Linked DNA regions of Homo sapiens. The protein of the gene in region 6 purifies or fractionates together with the protein of the main gene of each other region. This does not show direct contact. Each region holds a gene or a part of one and is shown on either strand. Other genes may lie near its edges.

Region 1 (2,736 bases), on a different chromosome or scaffold from region 6:
GTTTTTTGAGACTGGAGAGATTTACAGCACTCAATTCCTTTGGCAATGAAACAAATAAATGCTGTCTCTTTGGCCTCACCAGCAAAAAGGAGGCTCAACACCTTACTAAGACTCTACCAGTATAGGAGGCAGTACATGATGCCATCATGGGTGGCTCCCATATGTGAACATGTAGAAACACAGGGACCAGCACAACCTTGTTTCATTCTGATTGAACTTATGCTTCTCTAAATTTGTCAGAGTGGCCTTGGATTATACCATGTATAGCAACCGAGGCTGCAACTACTCAGTGACACTACTTATGTGACTGAAATCCACATATGATGATTTAAATCAGATTTGACAATACTTCTGAACTAGAGTAACCTGGACCCTTTGGGCTTATGTACTTGTATGTGGGGAAAATAAGCCATAGAAGGGCTCTCCATAGGGAACAGGTTTGTTTTTTGGCCCAGCTATTGCACCCATAATTATTGATAATAACACCACATATCAGTACGTCAGTCAAAGCTCCCTTTATTGGGTCATAAAGTATAATAAATTGTCCTTCACTACATTCTGGCTGCCTAATAAAAAGACCTATTGGTCCTCCCTTGGAACTTAGAGTTGATTGAGTCAAGACCTTGGGGGACAGGACTGAGGTTAATACTGCAGGTTGGCTTCATCCTGCTGCTGTGTCTGATAATAGCCTGCATTAATTGCTATATGAGACCAAATGAACAAATTTGGTACTGACTAAACAACCCGACTGTCAGGTTAATCAGAGTAGCTGATAGAGTGGCATACTCATGTGAAAATTCAAGTTTGGCCAAGAACATCTCAGGCTGAGGAGCAGACTGTTGGAAGAGACTATCCACTATGGGCTCTGAGTGTCCCTGCATACTTACTGGGTATGTCAAGAATGCAAGGACTTTGTCTTTACCTAGTCCATGTCCTAGGCTTGTGTTTACACTAAGCTATCTTCAAGTATGGGGTAATAACTCCCTTTGGACAAAGACCAGGATTTTTTTGCTTACTATAAAAGCAGTTAATAACCCAAGCTTACAACATAACCCACTGTGTGCAGGCTTTCATCATGGGCCCTTTGTGTTCCTCCTGTGGGAACTAGAAAAATGAGGAACTGAATAAAACCAACATGAAGCTCTGGCTACAGCTTTTGCTGTGAGCGATAAGTCCTTTGTTTCTGACCCAGGTGTCTTATGCATTCTGTAGCATCCCACGAAACAGTAACAGGCTAACTTGTTAGCTTATAAGTAGGGTAAAATCTCAGACCATGCACAGTTATTGACAGACATCAACTATTTTCTTCTTGGCAATAGCTGGCATTTTAGGCACCATGACTTGGCTATCAATATATTTATTATTAGCATGACATATTATGAAAAATTATTTTCCAAAGACTTAGCCAGTAACACTACAAAAATAGAAAGCCCGTTAATTCCTGTGAATTTATCTGTGTGTGTCCATGTCCAGTAATTATTTCACTGTCTGTCTGAAGTACTAACAATACTAAATCCAATGCTCGGCGCCACGCCTCAATCTTTGGTGTAACAACGTCATAAACTCTCGGAATCTGCTCCAGTTTATTTGAAATGTCTGAATTAAAAATTCTACTATTTAGTTTACTATATTCATTCAAGATGTAAGATGAAGGAGAGCCAGAGTCTGTGGCATTTTGCAGATGATGTTGAATGTATGTGCTGGCTTCAAATTCTGATGAGTAATTGGCAGTGTTATATAGGAGAGTTGAAAGGTATTTCTGCCATCCATTTGCCAGGAATTTAAGCACAGTTGGTCTGTATATTGCCAGAGATGAAGCCAGCCAAGAGGAAGTATTATGCAGCCACCCTGAGCAGGCATGGTTTTCTTTTTTCAGAGATTGCTCTGCAAGAATATGAAGACAGCTAAGACACAAAAATTCAACTGCACCACCTCCAAGGAAGACCTTTTCCTCTTTTAGAGCATAATACAAACGATAGGCACATGTCCAGAACCTATCTTCTTTGATTTGCATCTGTGCAGTAACTGGGTTAGTGAGCACGGCCGTAACCAAATTAATTCCTTCTGTTTTTAATAAGATTGCGATTCTGTTGTTCCTATCTACAACATCCAAAGGGCTGCTTCTCCAGAAGGTCACGCAGACCCCGTCGCCCACACAATCTTCATTCACTTGTGTAATGTAGGCCACCTGTACTGCTCCTGCAGCCTCTGCAAAAGCCTGCATCACACTGCCATTCACTGAGCCGATTACCAACCGCTTACTGTTTATACATTTTTCAATTAAGCGTTCGGACACATTTCCTTGTACCAGGACAAGGTTCACCTTGAACTGGATTAACACCTGTAACACGTGATTTGCCCACAGTTCTTCTGAGCTGTCTTCTTGAAGCCGCATGCTATCTAATACTGTTTTAATATTTGCAGACTTATTAAATCCCAGGTGGCGGTAATTCTCTGTGAGGTCACCCTCAATGAGAACTATTCGCACAGGCTGATTCTGCAATTCCTTGATCACAGGATTATTAGATACTGACACAACAGTGATATATCCTGGACAAACACAAGAAGAAGTTTCAGGTAAGCCTGGTAGACAGCAAGTGAAAATTCTTGAAATGTCAAACATAAATGGTTTTGTACAGTTGCCTTGTTGCACACAAGCATTCTGATATTGCAGCTGTACTGCTTCTTCTACTAACTTCATGCTGCTGTGATCTCCATGACTCAAGCCTACTGCCA
Region 2 (3,500 bases), on a different chromosome or scaffold from region 6:
GGGAGGCCAGGGTGGGCGAGCCTATCACTTGAGGCCATAATTTCAAGACCAGCCTGGCCAACATGGTGAAACCCCATCTCTACTAAAAATACAAAAATTAGTTAGGAGTGGTGGCACATGCTTGTAATGACAGCTGTTTAGGAGGCTGAGGCAGGAGGATTGCTTGAACCCAGGATGCGGAGGTTGCAATAAGCTGAGATTGCACCGCTACACTCCAGCCTGAGCAACAGAGGGAGACTCCGTCTCAAAAAAAAAAAAAAAGAAAAGGAAAAAAGTGTATCAAGAGTAAGCCTTTTTGAGATACCATGTGAACAAAGACTTGGAGTTAACATATACTGCAGCCAAGGATGGAGAGGCCATCAATTGACAGGAAAAACTGCAAGCAAAGCAGATTTTGGAACAAAGATTTGAAATTGTTTGCAGTATGTTCACTTTGAAGTGTCTGCTGGAGATTGCTTGGATCTAGGAATGTAGAGTTCAGGAGTGAACTATAGGCTAGAGACAGAAATTTGGAAATTGGCAGCATTAAAGCCACACAACTACAAGATTGAATGAGATCACCAAGAGAATAATTATAGAGAAGATAACCAAATGCGTCCATATACGAGGCCGTCATAAAATTGGTTCTTTTTCAGCTTCCGCATTTATACACAAGCATACTTGATGTTTTAGCCATATCAAACTGACTGATTTTCGGACTACATCACTGCTGTTTTGTTCATGTTTTATTAGACTGCATCTCTTGCCCTTCCACAGGATAAGCTAGTCGTTCTTCAAAATGTTTCCCATTGTCACCTTCATTCTAGTATTATTTTTGTACTATATGTACATACACTGTTAGTAGCACATTGTATATACCTGTCTTTCCTACCAGATGTAAACACCTTTGCATTCCAGATGCATAACACATAGATACTCAAATATTTATTGAAATATAATTGATTTATGCTTTAGGCAACTCTATTATGTTCATAAGAACTTTAGAAAAATTTAGATTGACAGAATTTTTTAAATCTCCATTAGGTTAGTTTTTTAATAGAGAATTTGGACTTTTAACTTAATTTTTTATAGGTTATTCTAACTAAAACCTTTTTGGTTGTTTACATTCAAGTAATGTTATTTTCTTGACATGTCTACATATCCCTTATGCTTATGCCTTTTTTTTTTTTTAACTCCGTGTTCCTTGCTAACTTATATTTACAAGTTGATTATAGTACTTTGATATATTTAGAAAATCCATGTCTTAAAATAATTTGGAGCTAAGTGATCAGGATTACAGAAGTATTCCATTTCAGTCAGACATATCATGTTAATGAGAGTTAAACTATATTTGAAGCTCAGTTTTGCTGACAAGGTTACATTAAGTGAACATTTTGAAATTTTTCTAGCATATTTGTTTCTTGCAAAAATCAAATTAATTTCTCAAAAACAGCTTAATTTTTCCAACAGCTACCAAACAATACTTAAATCTCAAATTTGTTTAAAGCGTGTATATACATATATATAACGCGCATAGAAAAATATTGGAAGACTATCAGCAAACTTATTTCTGGCCATATTATTGCAGGATATTTTCCCTTTCTACGTCATTTCTATGGTGTGCTTTAAAAAAAAAAAAGGCATGTATTTTTTTAATTAGTTAGGGGAAGATTAAGCTGCCTATTTCCTAATGGTTCAATATTGTTTTCTCTATTTAGGCTTTATCTGGCCACCCTAATGGAAACTTTTTTTAGTAGTTAACTTTTATTAGACTCATTGTAGCACAGTGCACTATAACCACTTTTTCTTCTTGTATGAAGTCAAGAAATACCTGGTATTATTCTTTGAAAACTGTAAGTATGCTTGAAGCCTAGTTACTACCTACAAATGATTCCTAAAGTTTTAAAAACCTCAAGTTCTTTCATTTATACTTTAGAAGCTTGACTTTGTAGGTTCTTAAGTTACTATTATTGTTGATACTTCAACTTCATAATGTAATTTTAAATCACTTTTTAAATACTAAGACTTTTTTTTAAATGAGATGCTCTAAATTAATACAAACTGTATATAAAAAAATTACTACACCCAACTTGTGGCACTATGGTAAGTTAAACAGGAGACAGTGTAGGTAAGATGTGATCCCTGTCAGCTACTGCATTTTTAAAGGATCCTATATTTTGGCCAGGCACAGTGGCTCACGCCTGTAGGCCCAGCACTTTGGTAGGCCAAGGTGGGCGGATCACTTGAGCTCAGGAACTGTAGACCAGCCTGGGCAACATGGTGAAACCCTGTCTCTACAAAAAATTCAAAAATCAGCTGGGCGTGGTGGCATGTGCCTTCCTCAGCTACTCGTTAGGCTGAGGTGGGAAGATCACTTGAGCCTGAGAAGCGGAGGCTGCTGTGACCTGTAATTATGCCTGGGCAACAGAGCAACCCTGTCTCAAAAAAAGAAAAATAAAGGATTCTATAGTTTACAGGATAACAGTATCCACAGATTTTTCTTTCTTTCTTTCTTTTTTTTTTTTTTGAGGCGGAGTCTTGCTCTCTCGCCCAGGCTGGAGTACAGTGGTGCGATCTTGGCTCACTGCAACCTCTGCCTCCTGGGTTCCAGTGATTCTTCTGCCTCAGCCTCCCGGGTAGCTGTGACTACAGGCACGTGCCACCACACCGGGCTAATTTTTGTATTTTTAGTAGAGACAGAGTTTCACCATATTGGCCAGGCTGGTCTCAAACTCTTGACCTTATGATCTGCCCACCTTGGCCTCCCAATTTTTTTTTTTTTTTATGTGAATGGTAGATAGTGGGGAAAGTGAGCCCAGTAGATTTTAGTCAGAAAAGTGTTATGAAGAGGGGGAGTTCTGTGAATGAGATGTAATCTACTTAAAGAAAACATGAATTTCATACAGGGAATTCATTATAGTTGTCAAATACTTGGGATGAGAAAAGACTATACTTAAGTGACTAGAAGTTGGAAGAGACTATAACAAGAAAATGTCTATTTTTTTATTTTTACTTTTTTAAACTTCCTATGGTGCTGAGGGGTTTTTTAAATATATAAATCTCTTACCCTTTTACTAACATGTTTGTTTATTTAATCTGTGTGGTTGCTAAGAAACTATGTTCAGATTTTAGGAAGACATACAAGACATGAAAAGATCATTGGTTGCAACAAATAATACAGATTAGTGGTATAAAAAATAATCAAGGCAGGAAGGATAAAGTTCCAAATGAGCTAAGCCTTTCAAAACTGCTAAGTATGACAGAAACGATGCTTTATGCTGTCTTTTGTGTTCTTCATACAGACTACTTAAATAGGGGGTAAAAGTCTCTTGTTTTTGCCTCTAACTCCTTACCAAGTAGAATGTTCTCCAAACTGGGCATTATAGAGTAATACATCTTAGAGAACTTTGTACTATAAGATAAAATATTACATCATATTCCTCTCCAGATAAATCAAATTTAGAAATTTCTTTTTTTATCTGTAATTATTGCTGTTTTTTGTTTTGTTTTTGAGACAGTCT
Region 3 (3,500 bases), on a different chromosome or scaffold from region 6:
GAAGAGAGCAAAGAACAGAAAGTCGGGGGTAAAGGGTAGAGAGAGGAAAGGAGGAAAATAGAAGAATTCTATAGCACAGATTCATTCTCTGGATTTATGTGTTATCAGAAATCCCAGGGAAAAAAAAGACACAAACTGTTATCACAAAAAGCATATATGTAAAAAGCATGAAAGAGGAAGTGGTTGGAAACAATTCCTAGGTAAGTCAGAGGCAAAAACCCAGGAAGCCCTTGCATAGCCAAAATATCCTTGCAGAGTGTAAGTCAGTCTTCCTTCAATGGCTGTACATCAGCAGACTGAACCTTTCCACTGGCAGACTCTTTATTTTTATCCGTAATGAAGTATAAGGGAGTATAAGCCATAACCTACTTGTCAGAAAGCAAGCTTGGACCTTAATGACCAGTACAGAAAAGGGTGCAGAGCAGCTAACCAGAACTTTGCAGCAATTTTTTAAAAAAAACAAAATAAAACAAAACAAAAACAGCAGCTATTTATGGGGGGGTTGGGGGCCTGGAGTAAGGCCATAAGCTCAGACACACACCAGGGGTGAGTTATCTCTGAGTATTTTTTTAAGACTTCTGGAAGCCCTAATTTCCTCCTCCTTGCTTTATAGTCAGCTGATTAATCATATCAAAACCATTCAAAAATATGAAAAGATCGTGTGCTTGCTTCAGACAGAAAGGCAGATAATAAATATGATAAGCTGCAGTCCAGTTGTGTGAAAACAGCACTGAATGTCAAGTCATTCATGTCCAGCTCTCCCCATCACCAGCTGCCTGCCCTGCTCAGCCCTGCCTTCCTTACTGCTCACTGTTGAATCAATGGACTTGCAATGATTCAGTCTGAATCAAGGACTAAATCACAGGCTTTCAATGTCTGTGAGAGTGCTTTACACTGTATACTCCAATGTGCCAATAAAGGTTAGTTCTCGATAATCTCCCCAGTTCCTTAGTGAGACAGGAAAGATAAATCTGTTCCCAGGTCTAAGGAAGGAATCTGGTGACGCTACAAGAAGCCTGTCTACAATGCCCAGCACTCCCTAGTGCTCTACTGACCTGAGCCTAACAAGCCTCAGTGATGCTGAGACTCAGGTGGCCATAGCAGGGGCAGAGTGGGAAGTGTACATCACAGAAATACATTTTAGGAAAGTGACACCCATACACTATCACTTTGCTTCAAGATTGAAATGTGGCCAACACTGACTGGGTTTTAAAATCATCTAGCCAGGAACCTGTGTTAGGGAAAGGTGTAGCTTAGCAAATGCAATGGTTTTCAATCTGGCTCTTAGCCATTCCCACAATGCCTGCCCTTTCCCAACCAAAGAACGTGCCTGAGCAGAGAAAGAACAGCAGGAGCTTTCCAGACATACCTAGCAAGTCCCTGCCCACCATCCTGACAATGCTGGTCCCAAGTCCACTTTCTCTCCTGGCTTAAAAAGGGGCAGTTAAAACTCCAGCCATTTAATGCACACAGGTACATGTGCATTAGACTTCTGAAGTTCTCCCCTTACACTTGCAAAACTAATCCAACTAGGCCAAAGGAAAAGAAGGATTGCTCTGACCCACAAACCTAAAAAATGCATGTGCACTAAGTCATGAAAGCCTCAGAGAGGGGGGAAAAAGACTAAACCCATTAGATTTCCAAGCAACACTAAAACTCCCCGGAAGTACAAGGACATCAAGGTCAAGAGAGGATTTTATTCTCTTATTCTTCATGCACTCTACAATTGTTAATTGAAAGGAGTAATGTCTTTCAGATGACAAATACCCAGAAAACATTTCTTGAATAAAGCACATGCCACAGACCCTGGTACAGTGAAGTTTCAATAATGCAAACTATGAATCTTAAAATAATCTTAACAGGCAATATAGCTAGTCTTGGGAATTATCTTCAGTAGTTATGTTCTACAGGAATAGAGAGGAAGGGGAGAGGACCACAATGGTATTTTAACTTTCACACTTATGGAAACAAACCAGAACACTTAACATTGCCCCCTTCCTCAAATTTAGGAACAAGGTATATCGCCTCCGTATCAAATCAAGACTAAAAGGAAAAAAATCTGCAATATGGCAGGTGTTCCCTATCAATCACCACCTGACTTATCTATGATCGGTTTTCCCTTTCAACCTCAACACTTTAACCCCAGGCAATGTTGGTGCTCCAGGCCCTTCCAAATCCACCCCAGACAACAGATTCTTTCCCTCCCTTCTCAGAACTTCCAAGAACTAGTCCCTTCTGGGTCTTAGAGGTTATATACTTACACATTTCTGGTGACTAACCACGTGAAGACAACAATCAGTAACAACAAAAAAAGCAGCAGCTAACATCTGAGTATTTACTATGTCATGCACTGTCCTAACTGCTATCAATATATTATCTCATTCCATTCTCACAAAAATCCTATGATCTTGTTGCTATTATCATTTCCATTTCACCAATGAGAAATCTGAGGCATAGAGATTACACAACTTGCTCAAAGTCACAAATTTACAAAACACCAGAACCTGCCTTCAAACCCACATTATCCCCACATTGTGTGGATTCCTAATCCGAGAGATTACAGATTGCCTCTAAAAAGAATGGTTCAGATGGGAATTGTTTTTAATCTTGAGTCTTGTGCAAAGACAGAATTGCCAATCAAAATTTTGTCATTAAGTTGCCATAACAAAGACATATCTAAGAAAATATGAATGTAGGAGAAAAGTCCTTGAAAAAAGTCCTTTTTTACAAGCAAGGAAGTTTGTTTTGTGTTTTTCATTTTTTATTTCCAAAGTTCTGGACCTCAGCATTACAATAAAGGTTTATCCACAGTGGCTGAAAGAGCTGCTGGCTGAGGTGGTGAGGACCTGACAATGAAGTATTTAAACTCAGGTTACCAGGAAAACCTGAAAAGTAGGAATTGATTAACTCATGACTATAAGAATAGATTAAAGGTCTGACCGGGCACAGTGGTTCACACCTGTAATCCCAGCACCTTGGGAGGCCGAGGCAAGTAAATCACCTGAGGTCAGGAGTTCGAGACCAGCCTGGCCAACATGGCAAAACCCCATCTCTACTAAAAATACAAAAATTAGCCGGGTGCAGTGGCAGGCACCTACAATCCCAGCTACTCGGGAGGCTGAGACAGGGAGAACTGCTTGAACCCAGGAAGTGGAGGTTGCAGATGAGCCAAGATTGTGCCACTGCACTTCCAGCCTGGGCGACAAAGCAAGACTCCATCTCTCAAAAAAAAAAAAAAGAAATGGATTAAAGGTCTTTGTTGAGATTGGAAGAAGCAGCAATACTTAGTACCTAACTACCAGATAATCTAATAGCCTAATGGACTTGAAAATAGCTAAACAAAATAAATAATTTCTATTTGTAATCTCAGTATAGGATTCTGCTTCAGCAATAACAGAGAAGGGAGAGCCAATAAGGACCCTAAAACACCTGCTGTGGCCAGCTACCTGCCTGCTTCCCACCACCCTGTGGCCCTGTACTCATCCCTTCTTTCCTCTGAT
Region 4 (3,500 bases), on a different chromosome or scaffold from region 6:
CCAATTATTCTCCATAAAACTTGGTCCCATTTTAAGTGGAGTCTCACTAAATGGTCTGTCCCTGAAACCAGTGAACGTCAGATGATGGGACCCCCTATACTTCTCTTTAGCATTTACCTCGAACACTGAATACCTACAGTGCTGGTCAGAAACAGGTGATTTAGGCATGTTCGGTTCCCTCCAGGAATCTAACAGGGGGACAGACAAGTCAGAGAGTAATGAGTGCTCTGGGGATATAAACGAAGCGCTCTATGAACAGAAGCGGCAGCAAGTCATTTGGAGGGTGGGGGGAGAATCAAGGAAGGCTTCATTCAGAGAGGACATTTAAGTAGGGCCTTGGAAGATTTTATTAATAACAAGGAATGGGAAAAAGGCATTCCAGGTAAGGGCACAGCATGAGCAAAGACAAGGAGCTGTGCAAAGCACACTGGGAGCTTCACAGAGAGATGCGGCTAAAATACACAGGGGACCACAGGGCAAACGGGCCAGAAGCTGGAACCAAAATTTAAACTAAGGCCCAGTGTTGAGAACACTGAACGCTATGGTTAGGCATTTGAATGTGTCCTTAAACAGCCAAAGGTCCTTGAGCACGGGTACCCAGGATAAAAAGCAGTAGGTAAGATGGACAGGACAGAAGAAAACACAGATGGGGCAGTGAAACAGGGTAACTCGCTTTGAACAGACCAAGTTTAAAGATGCTTGGGAACTTTAACTGGCACAACAGTGTGGCAAAGAAAGGGACAGACAGTTCTGCAGTGTAACTAACAAGACTTTGTAACCATCTGGGGGAAGGGAGAGGGAGGACAGTCAGAGACACTTCCCAGCAAACAGCAAGGCTGATCCAGACACCGTGCACAGGCGGGGGTGGGGCAGGCAGAGGGCAACCAGGCGGGGAGGGAGAGGCAGATTCCTCGGCAGCGGTTAGGAAAACTTCACCTACTATAGGGTCAAACTCTGACCTACAGGGGCCAGGCAGGTGACAAATGAACAAAGCTGGCTACTTCTAAGATAAATGGGACCATGAAGACTGTAGTATGGCCCACTGGAAACCACCACTCGGCTCTAGTGGATCGATGCCATGTGAGAATGCAGGCCCCAAAGGGCCAGATCATTTGAGTTTTCAAGAGAAGCCAAAAAAAAAAAAAAAATCAGATTAGTGAAATCTCCCAATTTTTACAGATTGTGTGTCATCCCACAAAACATTTTTCTGTGGACCAGATTTGGCCCTTGGGCCACGTGTTTGGGACCCCCAAATCTGTGTGCAACTGAAGAGCCACTGTTTGGTGGATCAGCCCTAAGATCAGACTGAAAACAATGAGGGAAAACGGTCCAAACAAAAGGCGAGCATCTAAAAGCAAATTTAAAAGCCAGAAGCAAGCAAAGCACAGTGGAGAGAGAGGTTTCAGAAGGAGGGGTGAAATCGCACTCTAAAATGTGAGTGCTGCTGGGTGCCAGAGGCAGGCAGTGGGCCAGCAAGGAGGCGAGGAAGAACATACCTTTAGTGCCAATCCACAGCTGGTCTTGTTCTAGTTTAAAGGTGAGTCTCACTTTTCCTCCAGATTTATTGTACATGCCGGACAGCGGTACCGTTGGCAGGCGCTCCTGAAGGCACGAGAGAATGGTAAGAGATGGAGGGACAGTCAGAAAAAAAGAGAAGGGGGCCAAGCGCGGTGGCTCACGCCTGTAATCCCAGCACACTGGGAGGCCAAAGCGGTCAGATCACCTGAGGTCAGGAGTTGGAGACTAGCCTGGGCAACATGGTAAAACCCCGTCTCTACTAAAAATACAAAAATTAGCCAGGTGTGGTGGCACACCCCAGCCTGGGTGACAGAGCAAGACTCTGTCTCAAAAAAAAAAAAACAGGGAAAAAAGAGAAGGGACAGGATTGGAGGAACCTCAAGTCAGACGGTGGGGCTGCCTCATTTTCAGAATGCTCACAAAGAAATCCGCCTTACCTGGGCCCCCTTAACAGATGGCATCACATCTTCAGGTTTTCCTTTATCCAACACTTTCCTGTGTTGCTATAAGTCAGAAGAGAGAATGAAATGAAACAGCTGACTACATTTCGTCGTGTTACTATTCCCTTGAAAGAGAGGATGAAGAAAGCCTTAGTGTTTTGGCTCAAAAGCTTTTAATGACGACAGACTATGGATCCTTTGAAACTATAGCACAGTGCTGTCCAGCAGAACTTTCTGGGAGGGCGAATATGTTCGTACCTGTGCTAGCCACTACCTACTGCTGTGACTATTACACACTTGAAATGCAGCTACTATGACTGAGGAACTGAATTCTTAATTTCATTTTAACCAGCCACATGTGGATAGCTACCATATTAGATATCAAAGTTCTACAGCAAACGGGATTTCCAGATTGCCCTCCTCCCCTCAAAAAAAAAAAAAAAAATCACCACTGAAATGATTAAACCATCAAACTAAAGAGGGCGACAAAGGGTGTTGCTCTCCTAGCAGACAAAAAATGGCACCCACCTTTTTCAACTTAAACTTCCAGAGAACACTATAAGATGCTGGTAATCCGTCTAACTGCCTAGGAGGAGCAGTTCTTCAACAAATGGAGACCCAGCCCATCGCCGAAGTTTTCCCCACTGCCCTACCCTTAACTCCAGCTAAACAGGAACCTGGAAGAGCCACCTTTCAGAAAGAAATGCTTATTACTCTATAACCTGACATTAAGAAGCCTCTAAACTCCACCCCTACCACCTGCCCCAAGAACTCTGAGGCAGCTCTTCAAGGATTCTAAGTTCAGGGCCCCTTAAACAGTTCTCCTGCCTGGCCCAAATGCCTGAGTCTTCTTTCTTCTCCATCTGTGGCCTTATAGGCATAGCCACTGCTTGGAAGGCTGGAACTAGGGGACAATGAATGGATAGAAGGTAACAATTTAATCAAATGTAAGCACTAGGCAGCCACAAGCCAGCCCAAATCCTCACTGGCATGGTGGAATCCCTCTGGGAGGAATAAACTCAGCACTGCCAGACTGCTAGCAAAAAGTCACTCCAGACATCACCCCCAGACCCCTTAATAAGCTGGTAAAAAGGCAAGGGACTATATCCCTCTCATTAGGTCATGTGATGCATCATAATTGGCCTCAATGAAACACAGCAGCATGGGCTGGAAGTACAATTCGAGTCACACCTTTCAAGTACCTTTTGAACAAGATTTCCTGTACTGTGGAGAACAGTTCTAAGCCTGTTAAGCTACCATTAGTAACTAAAAACCTGTATTTAGGAGGCATGTTATGCTCCAAGGGTGTGACCATTGCGACCACTCCTATCTGACGTGCTCACATTTCACTATTTCATACATGTGGCAAAGAAAAACAGGAATATGAGAAGAAACTCAATCGGTTTCAAGACACTGAGACCCCATATGTGGGGGTGAAGTCTCCAAATCAACACCTTTTAGATAATTAATATAGGTTTATAACCCCTTATCTGAAACCCTAGAGTTTTGAACTTTCAGGGTTTTGGAATTTTTATAAAGATA
Region 5 (4,080 bases), on a different chromosome or scaffold from region 6:
GGCTGCAAGGACTCAAAGATGGAAGAGTAAGCCATAGCAGGGGCATAAGTCCCAGAAGCCCACAGGGGGCAATATTAGCTACCAATTACTGAGTGCTTCTCTCCATACTGTGCATTCACCTTTAATCCTCACAACAACTAAGAAGGACATTATTACTCCCATTTCACAGAGGAAGAAACTAAGGCTCAGAGAGGTTAAGTAACTTTCCATAGTTATATCTGGGTAGGCAAAAAGTCTGATGCCCTGCACCTTTTACTATACCTTACTGTGTCTCTTAGAAAAAATAAAAAAAGGACATACAGTGAAGCAGCCCAGAGCTTACCTGACAGGTGGTTAACTGTATGACTTTATCTAAAAGAGCATCCCCATATCACTCATTTTCTGCTTTATTTTTCTTCATGCCACTTCTTGATGTTACATTATATATGACTACTTGTTTACTGTACACCACCCCTGCCAGAAACTAAACTCCAGGAGGGCAGGAACTCTGCTTTGCTCACTGCTGTTTCCCCTGCATCTGAAACTGTGCTGGCCCAAAGAAGATGTACATATATTTATATGGCGAATGAATGTAAGACCCTATGAAAGACTTGCTCAGCATGAAGGGGAATATAGAGCATATATGCACAGGATTTCTTGGTCAGCCCTGAGATCTCCGTGGCTGTCCCATTACCAGGGGTGCAAGGCTGCTGAACACCTGGGAGAAAAGTAACATGACACATGGGCACTCTGAGGTTCAAATTACGGTACCAATTTTTGTAACACTGTGAGAGGCCCTAAATCCAGGATAAAGCAAGACGAAGGGAAATTTAACACAACCTATTACAACTGTTGTTTGCCTTTCTTCCTCACAAACACTCCAGACATATCACACGTGCACATGCACACATACACACACACACACACACACACACACACACCCCTAACAAGGTAAATCCCCTTCCTGTGAACCGAACTTTATTCCCCCAAAATTCACGTGTTGAAGCCCTAACCTTTAGTACCTTACTGTATTTGGAAAGAAGGCCTTTAAAGGGGCAATTAAGGTTAAATGAGGTCATAAGGGTGGGGCCCTAATCCAATATGACTGGTGTCCTTAAAAGAAGAGACACCACGGATGCTCACGCACACAGAAAAGGCCATGTGAGGACACAGTGAAAAAAGCCATGTGAGGACACAGTGAGAAGGCGGCCATCTGCAAGCCAGAGAGAGGCCTCGGGAGAAACCAAACCTACTCACACCTTGATCTTGGCCTTCTAGCCTCTGGAACTGTGAGAAAATAAATTTCTGTTGTTTAAGCCTCTGTTGTGTGGTATTTTGTTATGGTAGCCCTAGCCGACCAACACACCCCCACAGTTTCAGATTATACAGCAGGAAAAACACACTACCAGTCCTCCAAACACAGCAGAAGGGTGTCAACAACCTATTAAACATATTTTACAACCTTTAATATTCGGCTTTGTCTGTACTGAAACAATATTTCTGTTTCCTCTGTCCACACAGACGCCAGTCTCCTGCCTGGAAAAAGCCAGAGACAGCACACATTCAATCCCCAACTCCACCCCCAGCTCCCGGGCCACCTCAAAGACGCCCAGCCAGCCAGACTACCGCAGGTCACGCCATGCTCTCCCTCCTGCCAAATTGCAGCCCCACATTCAACAATTGCCGCCTTGTACTGATCATTACTTCTTTAAAAATTGGACAACTAATACTGATTTTAACAGCAATACAGGTTATAATTTTGCTCTCCCCCAACACAAGAGCTGGAAGTCCTTCACTCGTGTATTTCACTCATGTGTATTTCCCCAACACCAGCACATGGGTAGGCACACAGATGCTCGTTCATTCATTCGTCAACGAGTATTTACTGGGGACCTACAATGTGCCAGACACCAAGAGAGGCACCGTGAACAAGACAGGCACAGCACCCACTCTTACCACACTTACTTTCCAGCCAGAGAGACTGACGTTAATAATAAATTATACACATCATTACAATTGTGATACGTGCTATGAAGAAGCACAAGACGCAGCGACTGCTTGTTCCCGTGCATGCTGGTCGGCCACCTGCCACGCTCCTGTGCATGAACCCTCCTCTCTCCCAGACACACATCAAGATGACCCTGTCTCTCCCAATGCTCCCGTCAAACCAACAGCAGCCCAACTCCCCCAACACATGCAAGAACCGGTCACAGCAGAGTGTCAGCAAATAGGCAGGGTCTGTGCCTTGTGCGCGGCCAAACACCGCAGGCCTCACATCTAAAGGATGCTTTCGCCAGGCTGGGACAGGGTCTCCCTCCTCCAGGCATCAGGAGTGTGGGGGGCACAGGTGGCCCCACGGAGCTCTGGGACCGGGCGATCCTCTCCACCGAGCCCTCCGCGCTGTCTTCCAGGCGCTATTCGGGCTGGAGGGCTCTCGCGGAACCAGACGCTCTGCCCCGAGGCAGGTTCTTCCCGCGGCGCCACAGCCCCTCCGGCCCTGACCCCGCCAGCCGGCAGGCCCCTAAGTCGACCGCGAAGACCCTTCCTTCCCCGCCCGCCCGCTCCTCCTCCGCTCCCCCTCCGCTCCCAGCCCAGGATCCTTCAACCCAGAGCCCGGCTCGGACCTCAGCCGCCCAGCCCCTGAACTGCCCACGCCGCGGCCAGCAGCTCCCACATCTCGGCGCCCCTCAGGGCCTGCACCGGCCCGGGGGCGGAGTCACGTACCCAGGCGAAGAGCGCGGCCGCCGCGGGGGCGGCCTCCGAGGCGCTGGGCTCGCGCTCCATGCGAGGACGCTCCGCCGGCGCTTCCGGGAGGGACGGCACGGGGGCGGCGCCTGCCGGGGGTAGGTGAGCGCCGGAGCCGGACCGGGGACGCGTGATGGGTAGGGCGCGGGGCGGGGTCTGTGGTGGGAAGCGGCCCGCAGGCCGGGAGAGAGGGTGCGGCCGGGCCCTCGGGCCACTGGGGATCAGTGGTGGGCGGGGCCGGACGACAGCCCCGGAGCCGCCTCCCAGTCAGCCCGCCCCGGCGGCGCTCGCAGCGTCTCCGCCCGCAGCCTCCTGTCTCGCTGGGCCTCTCAGCCTCTCGCTCCTACCCCCTCGTACTCTTTATTTTTAGTCATAATTTCATGTTTCATGCAGGTGCACTGCGCGCCACAGTTCACAAAGCTCCTTCGCGTTTTTGTCTCCTTGGAGGCCCACGACAGCCCAGAGGGGCTGACAGGGCAGCGATGGCATCACCATTTGCGGGAACAGGAAATGGAGCCTGAGGGGTAGGGCAGGGTCCTGCCCGGCGTCTCAGGCGCAATTGTCTTGAGCCCGCTTTGGTGTGCGTTCGCAAACATCTGAGGGGGCGCCTTGGGAGGCGAGTGGAGTGGCACGTCGCCGGTGTCGCCCTCTGCACCTGGCACGGAGCGGGAACCCGCGCCTCGCGACGCTGAATGGGGGAGGCTGGTTAGCGTCGACTCCTGCCGGGGCAGCCTCGGCGCTCCGGGCACGGCCCTGAGCTCATTCTATTAATAATACTGGATAATCGTCACCCAACGAACATTTCCATATAAAATGGCTTTTCTCAGACAGCGTCGTGTTGCTGATGGGAGTTAATTAAGTTCAATTTATCTGAAGGAAAATATGGCACCGCGTACCGGGAATACAGAACACATAGGGTCACATTAAAGATGATCATCCACATTCACATTCGGTAGCACTTGGCCCCTCTGCTGACACGGGCCTCCAGCACTCACTGCCCTTCACCCCTGGGCTTCTGGGAAGTGTCTCCAATGAGCTCTTACACTGTCCTTTCCTGTTCTTTCACTCCATCCACTTTTAGGAGTTTCTGCCTGTAAGACCACTTGAGGGCAGCCCCTCACCTTTATCTCTCCAACCTGTGGCATCTGGAGAACGTCGATGACCATACCAAGAAAAAAGCAAACTTTGGAGAGATAAAACAGCTCTTCATTCTCTAGGGATCTGAATGTGCAGGAGCTATACCATGCTTACTGACTGTCTTATGAGTGGGCTTTTTTGTGCTGACCATTTCTTTGAAGCATGTGTAACAGGATGTAAAAATGGGATCCTTCACCGCTCAGTTTTGGCTGAGCAACA
Region 6 (3,500 bases):
CTTGAAGCAGTTATGAACAGAAGACACCAGAGCATTCACTTACATTTTCAAACTCCAGACTGTCTGATATCCTTCTTAATCTGTTGGACGGTATATGAATACCAAAAGCATTATATTTTAAGGTGATTTTCCCAGATAATGTTCAGTAGCAGCAATTATTTCCCTGAAGTCGATAGATCTCAGGATGACCTATTCCCTCAACATTGTATTAAAATTGTGTGTGTGCACATGTGGAAGTTTCTAGGAAGAGGCTTCTTCACTTTAATTTCTCAAAGAGGTCTGTAACAAAAGAAGTCATGACACAATTTTATGGTTTGGCCCTTGTGTGTCAGGTTCATCTTGAAGCTAGGGTTCATCCCAGAGTGCGGCATTTTAATTAAGCACGACATAAGTGTAAATAATGTTTCCTTAATATGTGTCAGTAATATCTTTGTGTTTAGTTAGACTTTTATTATAAATAACGTGTACACTTTGCTTAAGGCCATTAAAACACAATTTTTAGAATTTTGACTTTAATTCAAAGATCTGAAAAGTCTCATTTATTTATTTATTTATTTATTTTTTACTTTTTGAGACGGGAGTCTCACTCTGTCGCCCAGACTGGAGTGCAGTAGCGCGATCCCGGCTCACTGCAAGCTCCGCCTCCTGGGTTCACGCCATTCTCCTGCCTCAGCCTCCCGAGTAGCTGGGACTACAGACACCCGCCACCATGCCTGGCTAATTATTTGTGTTTTTAGTAGAGACGGGGTTTCACCGTGTTAACCGGGATGGTCTTGATCTCCTAACCTCGTCATCCGCCTGCCTTGGCCTCCCAAAGTGTTGAGATTGCAGACGTGAGCCACCACGCCCATCCTAGGTCTCTTTTAAATCTCAGTATAAAACACATTTGTCATTTGCTATTAATCTTTTAAAAGAAAGCAAAAGCATATGTCATGAAGTGGGCTTTGGGGAATTATATCGTAATGTGACAAAGTTTTTGCATTTGTGACTTAGTCTAGGCTGATACTTCATAAATAATTGATCCCCTCAGTGTTTATACTTCATCCAGAAAGTGAAAAACACCCTAAAATCCAGTTTAGGTTGGGTACGGTGGCTCACATCTGTAATCCCAGCAGGCAGGGAGGCTGAGGCAGGTGGATCACCTGAGGTCAGGACTTCGAGACCAGCCTGACCAACATGGAGAAACCCCATCTCTACTAAAAATACAAAAATTAGCTGGATGTGGTGGCATGTGCCTGGAATCTCAGCTGCTTGGGAGGCTGAGGCAGGAGAATCACTTGAACCTGGGAGGCGGAGGTTGCAGTGAGCCAAAATCACACCACCCAGCCTAAGCGACAGAGCAAGACTCCGCCTCAAAAAAAAAAAGAATTGTGAAAATTTAGTACTGTTTGGTTTGGTTTGAGGCAAGGTCTTGCACTGTCACCCAGGCTGGAGTGAGTGTGTGTTCATGGCTCTTTGCATCCTCAAACTTCTGGGCTCAAGTAATCCTCTTGCCTTAGCTTCCTGAGTAGCTGGAACTACAGGCACGCACCACCACATCTTGCTGACTTTTAAAATTTTTCGTAGAGATGGGTCTTGCTTTGTTGCCCAGGCTGGTCTTGAACTCCTGGCCTCAAGCAGTCCTTCCACCTTGGCCTCCCAAAGTGTTGGGATTACAGATGTGAGCTGCCATGCCTGTTTTTTTTTTTTTAATCAAAGACAAATTTCAAACGTGTATAGTGTTTTTTAAAAGAAAAATTTTAAATATGAAATATCAGGGATAAGGATTATAAAAACAAGACATCAAAATAAAATTGTCTTCAAAAATAAATTTTGTCAAGAAGAGGCCCAATTTTATGGGATTCCTCTGGAGGTCATTGAGAAGTATTAAATCCTTGGCTGGGCACGGTGGCTCATGCCTCTAATCCCAGCACTTTGGGAGGCCAAGGCGGGCAGATCAGAAGGTTAGGAGCTCGAGACCAGCCTGGCCAATATGGTGAAACCCCGCCTCTACTAAAAATGCAAAAATTAGCCGGGTATGGTGATGGGCACCTGTAGTCCCAGCTACTCGGGAGGCTGAGACAGGAGAATCGCTCGAACCCAGGAGGCGGAGGTTGCAATGAGCCGAGATAGTGCCACTGCACTCCAGCCTGGCAGACGCTAAATACCAAGTGGATCTGTTCACTGAGTTTTAGTATCACTTTTTAAAATGTCTTTTTAAAACTTATGTGTACAATTAAATTTCCACCTTTCTATAAAAATTCATTTTAAACGGAGAATAAGGAATTTATTATAATCTGGAGCTCACTGAATGGAAATCTCCAGCCAGCTCTGTGAGCAGAGAGGAAAAAATAGGTGATCTCTAAGTTTCCTCTAGCTCTGATTCTATGAGTAGAGAGAATGTAGAAGTTGGGTTAGATCAAGTCACACAATCTACAAGGGAAAAAAATGCAAATTGGAAGACTCAGGAGTAACTAAAAAGAAACATATGAAGTTGCTTTAGAAAGATTGAGGATTAGGCCGGGAGTGGTGGCTCACGCCTGTAATACTAGCACCTTGGGAGTCTGAGGCAGGTGGATCACCTGAGGTCAGGAGTTCTAGACCAGCCTGGCCAACATGGTGAAATCCCCGTCTCTACCAAAATTACAAAAAAAAAATTAGCCAGGCATGGTAGCGGGCGCCTGTAATCCCAGCTACTCAGGCTGAGCCAGGAGAATCGCTTGAACCTGGGAGGCGGATGTTGCAATGAGCTGAGATCACACCACTGCACTCCAGCCTGGGTGATGAGCGAGATTCCGTCCCCCCGCCCCCAACCCACAAAAAAAAAACAACAACAAAAAAACATAGAACAATTGAGGATTGGCTGGGTGCGGTAACTTACGCCTGTAATCCTAGCACTTTGGGAGGCCGAGGCTCAGAAGTTGTTTGCTTGAGCTAGGAGTTTGAGACCAGCCGGGCAACATGGTGAAATCCCGTTTCTACAGAAAAACAGAAAATACAAAAATTAGCCAGGCGTGATGGCACGCACCTGTAGTCCCAGCTACTCGGGAGGCTGAGACAGGAGGATTGCCTGAAGCTGGGAGTTTGCAGCTGCAGTGAGCTGTGATTACACCCCAGCACTCCATTCCTGGGCAACAGAGCAAGACTCTGTCTCCAAAAAAAAAAGAAAAAGAAAATCTGAGGATTATATTTCTGAACGTGGCCTTTAGAAAGAAGTCCTTGCTTTAAAAGTGTGTCATGTTCTTGCCATATAATAATGAAAAAAGTTCATTTATGTTGGAGTTGCATGTTAGGATCAAGTTAGATTGTGAACTTAGCACATGTGACCAAAAAAAGAAATAGATTTTAATAAAGTTACCACTAAAAATCCCTTAACGTGATCATTAAGTATGGTATACGTTCATTGCATCTCACAGAAGTGGAAAATAGCTAGTTTTTCCTCTAGGAACTCCAAAAATAAGTTTCATTAATTGAGCACCAGATGAAGAAACTGGCTTACATGAGGGGCTTCGTTACACAAA
Region 7 (3,500 bases), on a different chromosome or scaffold from region 6:
GTTATCCATATGTACACAGAAAAGTATTTTCATTTATGGCACCAAGGTGTGCACATAGAGAAGCTAAATTATATTAGTAACTACCAGAGAGTTTGTTTCCTACGAGAGAAAATACCAGGACAAAAAAACCACTATAGACAATTAACCAGATAAAGAACTGAGAAAAAACTTGAGGGTAAAATAAATATCGCATAACTAATGAATGCGGCTTGGTGCAGATGAATTCTGTGATAAGAGGCAGATAGTATGAGTAGAAGGAGAAGGAACTTAGCAATTTGCACCAACCTAATAGCGCAGCTTTGCGAAACATTACACTGAAAGGCAAAGGCTTCAGATGAAACGTAAACATACATCTTATCAAAAAACTGCAATAGAAAAGTAGAGTTTCTAATCATGCCACCCAAATTTGCATGATACGCATTTATGCAAATGCACTAATGAAAGGGAATCCCTGTGCTTTATGTTGAGTTTGGTTTAGACTGGAAAACTCTGAAAAAATCTATTCTGAACCCTTCATGAAAACTCCTAACTTAAAACAAATAAACCTTGCTGAATTTTAGCCTAAGAATATGCAAATGCAGATTACAAACAGTAAATAAATGCCTGGCTTTTTTATTTTGGTCTGTTAAATCACGAGTCTCCACTAGTTTTCCATTAGTTGAGATGTATTGGACTTCAAAAAAAATACAAATTAATTTTATAACATATTTGCATAGCTCAAATGTACTCAGGCACACACATTCATTGATCAAAAGGCCTTTTGAAATATTTGCTGGATCATTTTTCCTTATCAACTCCATTGAGAAAAGGGAGGAAAATCCTCATTTCACAATGTTATTATAGCATGTACTGTTGAATGTATGCTAGGTTCTGTGCTAGGCACTTCATGTACATCATTTCTTTCAATTCTCACAAGTCATTACCCTCATTTTCAGAGGCACAAACTAAAATGACAGAAGTTAAGCAACTTATATCCAAGGTTACATAGCTAAATGTTGGAACACAGATTCAAATCTAGGTCTGCTAATATATTCAAAATTGCCTGAATATTTATTAGCTGTCAGGATTCTTTTTTACTTGTACTTTGATACAATCTATAGCATCACCTATAGTACTTGGTGTAATATGTATATGACATATGCTTATTGAAAAATGTTGCTAAAATGAATAAAGGGGATAACTACCTTAGATATAAGAAAGTAAAATATTGGAGAAACGCCTGAAGAAGAAATCATTTTCTATTTTAGTGCAATTTTATCCACTAATTTGTCAATTAATAATGGTAAGAACATACATGAAAATGTACCAATATATGACAGTGATACAAATAATTATACTTTAGCCTATCTATGCTATTCATATGTGGTTGAATTTTAGTCTCAGAAATAACATACATATCAACAAACTTGCCAGGGCAAATTATCCCTCCTCAAATGGTTAGGAAGTAAATTTTCATTGCCACCATTACTCTTAATTCAATTGTGCTAAATTAGTACACTCTAGAAAACAGAACTGAAGTATTATTACTCCCTCATAAAGAAAACAACACCCTAAAGAAAGCCTCTGTCAATGACTATAGACAAGACTCTTAAGCTCAATTTCCTTATGACTAAAATGTGCTGCTAATAATGTGGTTTTCAAACCGCAGCTCCCTAGAGTCACAGACGGTTTAGCAGAGATGTCTCAGGGACTCTGTAGGGGGAAAGAGGATGTCAAAGTGACAGGATGAGAGCTCTGGGCCTACATTTCTATGCCAGTTTCAACCACAATACTGTTATCTCTCTCACGTACTGGCATTCTATGTTAAAATATCCTTTTTCACATTTCTTTCAAATGGCAGAAACTCTATTTTTCAATCTCCAGATTACATCAACATTGGAAGTCTGTGATTGGGAAACAGCAGTGAACACCTGGCATTAGATTGCCTGGGTTCAAATCCAGCTCTACCACTTAATAGGTAAGTTCTGTGGCCTTACCTAATTTTCTGTGCCTGCTTCAATTTCCTCACTTGTTACTGGGTTGTTGTGATAAGTAAATAAATGTAAAGTGATTAAAATAGTGCTTAGCATATAATAAGTCCTATATAAATGATTGTTATTAAGATGACATTGATTATATAAACCTACTTCGATGATCTGAAGCAAAATCTGCTGCAAATATTATTTTAAATGTCAAATCTTCATAGAAATGTGTCATGGCTCATCAACAAGTACACGATTATCAAAGCAAATGAAAACTTACCAAATTATTTCAAAACTTTAGAAATAAATAGTCTAAACAACTAAGTTTGGGATCACTGACAATTTATCCTTTTACAGGCCAAACATGTTTACTTTAACTATACAGGGCGAGTATCCCTTAAACAAAATGCTTGAGACCAGAAGTCTTTAGACCTGGGGATGAGGCCCAAGTATAAACATGAAATTCATTTATGTTTCATAAAGTGCATCCATATATGCATACATTTTGTGCATACAACAAAGTTTTGATTGTGTTTTGACTACAACCCATCCATCACATGAGGTCAGACGTGGAATTTTCCACTTATGGTGTCATGTCACGGTGCTCAAAAAGTTTTGGATTTTGGAGCATTTAGAATTTGATATTCAAATTAGGGATGCTCAACTTGTACCAGATTAAAAATAAAACTCCATGAACAGTTGATTATCTTCCTCCTTCACATATTAAAAGTAGAAAAGGAAGCTGGGGCTTTCCCATAGGAAAGGTAAAATACAAAACCCTTAGGCCAGGCGTGTTGGCTCACACCTGTAATCCCAGCACTTTGGGAGGCCAAGGCAGGCGGATCACAAGGTCAAGAGATCGAGACCATCCTGGCTAACACAGTGAAACCCCATCTCTACTAAAAATACAAAAAATTAGCCAGGCATGGTGGCGGGCGCCTGTAGTCCCAGCTACGCTGGAGGCTGAGGAAGGAGAGTGGCATGAACCCGGGAGGCAGAGTTTGCAGTGAGCCGAGATGGCGCCACTGCACTCCAGCCTGGGCGACAGAGCAAGACTCCGTCTCAAAAACAAAACAAACAAACAAAACAAACAAAAAAACCCTTAGTGTTTGTCCCTTGTGACACAGATTTTGGCTATTCAATTAAAAGCCTTTTTTATATTCCTGGCCCTTAATTATTGTCAAAGAGTAGGGTCATTCCTTGATAGCTGGGTTGCATACCTATCACGAACCATTATTTTCTATGGGACATATTCCTCTCTTTATGTGACTCAAAAGAGAGTATCCAAACTAGCTAGGTATCCAAACAAGCTAAAATAGCATTTCTCAATGTGAATGACAAAGAATACTATTTTCAAAAGATGAATGTTTTCTTTTTCTTTCATAATTGAGATTTCATCAGTTGTGTTGAGGATCAGTACACAGACATTTCAACTTGTACATAATTCTGAACATATGTACTGCAAAATCTAAAAAGCCACGTATCATTATTATTCTCTAAAGTTATTCCAGTGACTTTCCAGCTTACAACTGAGGCAAA

Evidence for each region.
Region 1: the proteins of FERMT2 (region 6) and BBS12 purify together in Homo sapiens (affinity purification with mass spectrometry; one large-scale study listed by BioGRID and IntAct). This does not show direct contact.
Region 2: the proteins of FERMT2 (region 6) and NAA50 fractionate together in Homo sapiens (co-fractionation; one large-scale study listed by BioGRID). This does not show direct contact.
Region 3: the proteins of FERMT2 (region 6) and ISOC1 fractionate together in Homo sapiens (co-fractionation; one large-scale study listed by BioGRID). This does not show direct contact.
Region 4: the proteins of FERMT2 (region 6) and UBFD1 fractionate together in Homo sapiens (co-fractionation; one large-scale study listed by BioGRID). This does not show direct contact.
Region 5: the proteins of FERMT2 (region 6) and SERGEF fractionate together in Homo sapiens (co-fractionation; one large-scale study listed by BioGRID). This does not show direct contact.
Region 7: the proteins of FERMT2 (region 6) and PDCD10 fractionate together in Homo sapiens (co-fractionation; one large-scale study listed by BioGRID). This does not show direct contact.

The regions. Positions count from the first base shown.
Region 1 is NC_000004.12:122,742,704-122,745,439, reverse strand, and holds the end of BBS12 (chaperonin-containing T-complex member BBS12), read right to left. Parts: coding exon 1,415-2,736; 3' UTR 501-1,414; downstream 1-500. UniProt on the Homo sapiens protein: Component of the chaperonin-containing T-complex (TRiC), a molecular chaperone complex that assists the folding of proteins upon ATP hydrolysis.
Region 2 is NC_000003.12:113,725,750-113,729,249, reverse strand, and holds part of NAA50 (N-alpha-acetyltransferase 50), read left to right. Parts: intron 1-3,500. UniProt on the Homo sapiens protein: N-alpha-acetyltransferase that acetylates the N-terminus of proteins that retain their initiating methionine. Has a broad substrate specificity: able to acetylate the initiator methionine of most peptides, except for those with a proline in second position.
Region 3 is NC_000005.10:129,108,249-129,111,748, reverse strand, and holds part of ISOC1 (isochorismatase domain-containing protein 1), read right to left. Parts: intron 1-3,500.
Region 4 is NC_000016.10:23,560,727-23,564,226, reverse strand, and holds part of UBFD1 (ubiquitin domain-containing protein UBFD1), read right to left. Parts: intron 2,022-3,500; coding exon 1,956-2,021; intron 1,603-1,955; coding exon 1,497-1,602; intron 189-1,496; coding exon of another isoform or gene 118-188; intron 1-117. UniProt on the Homo sapiens protein: May play a role as NF-kappa-B regulator.
Region 5 is NC_000011.10:18,010,248-18,014,327, forward strand, and holds the start of SERGEF (secretion-regulating guanine nucleotide exchange factor), read right to left. Parts: upstream 2,801-4,080; 5' UTR 2,764-2,800; coding exon 2,704-2,763; intron 1-2,703. UniProt on the Homo sapiens protein: Probable guanine nucleotide exchange factor (GEF), which may be involved in the secretion process.
Region 6 is NC_000014.9:52,944,551-52,948,050, reverse strand, and holds part of FERMT2 (fermitin family homolog 2), read left to right. Parts: intron 1-3,500. UniProt on the Homo sapiens protein: Scaffolding protein that enhances integrin activation mediated by TLN1 and/or TLN2, but activates integrins only weakly by itself. Binds to membranes enriched in phosphoinositides.
Region 7 is NC_000003.12:167,689,893-167,693,392, forward strand, and holds part of PDCD10 (programmed cell death protein 10), read right to left. Parts: intron 1-3,500. UniProt on the Homo sapiens protein: Promotes cell proliferation. Modulates apoptotic pathways. Increases mitogen-activated protein kinase activity and STK26 activity. Important for cell migration, and for normal structure and assembly of the Golgi complex.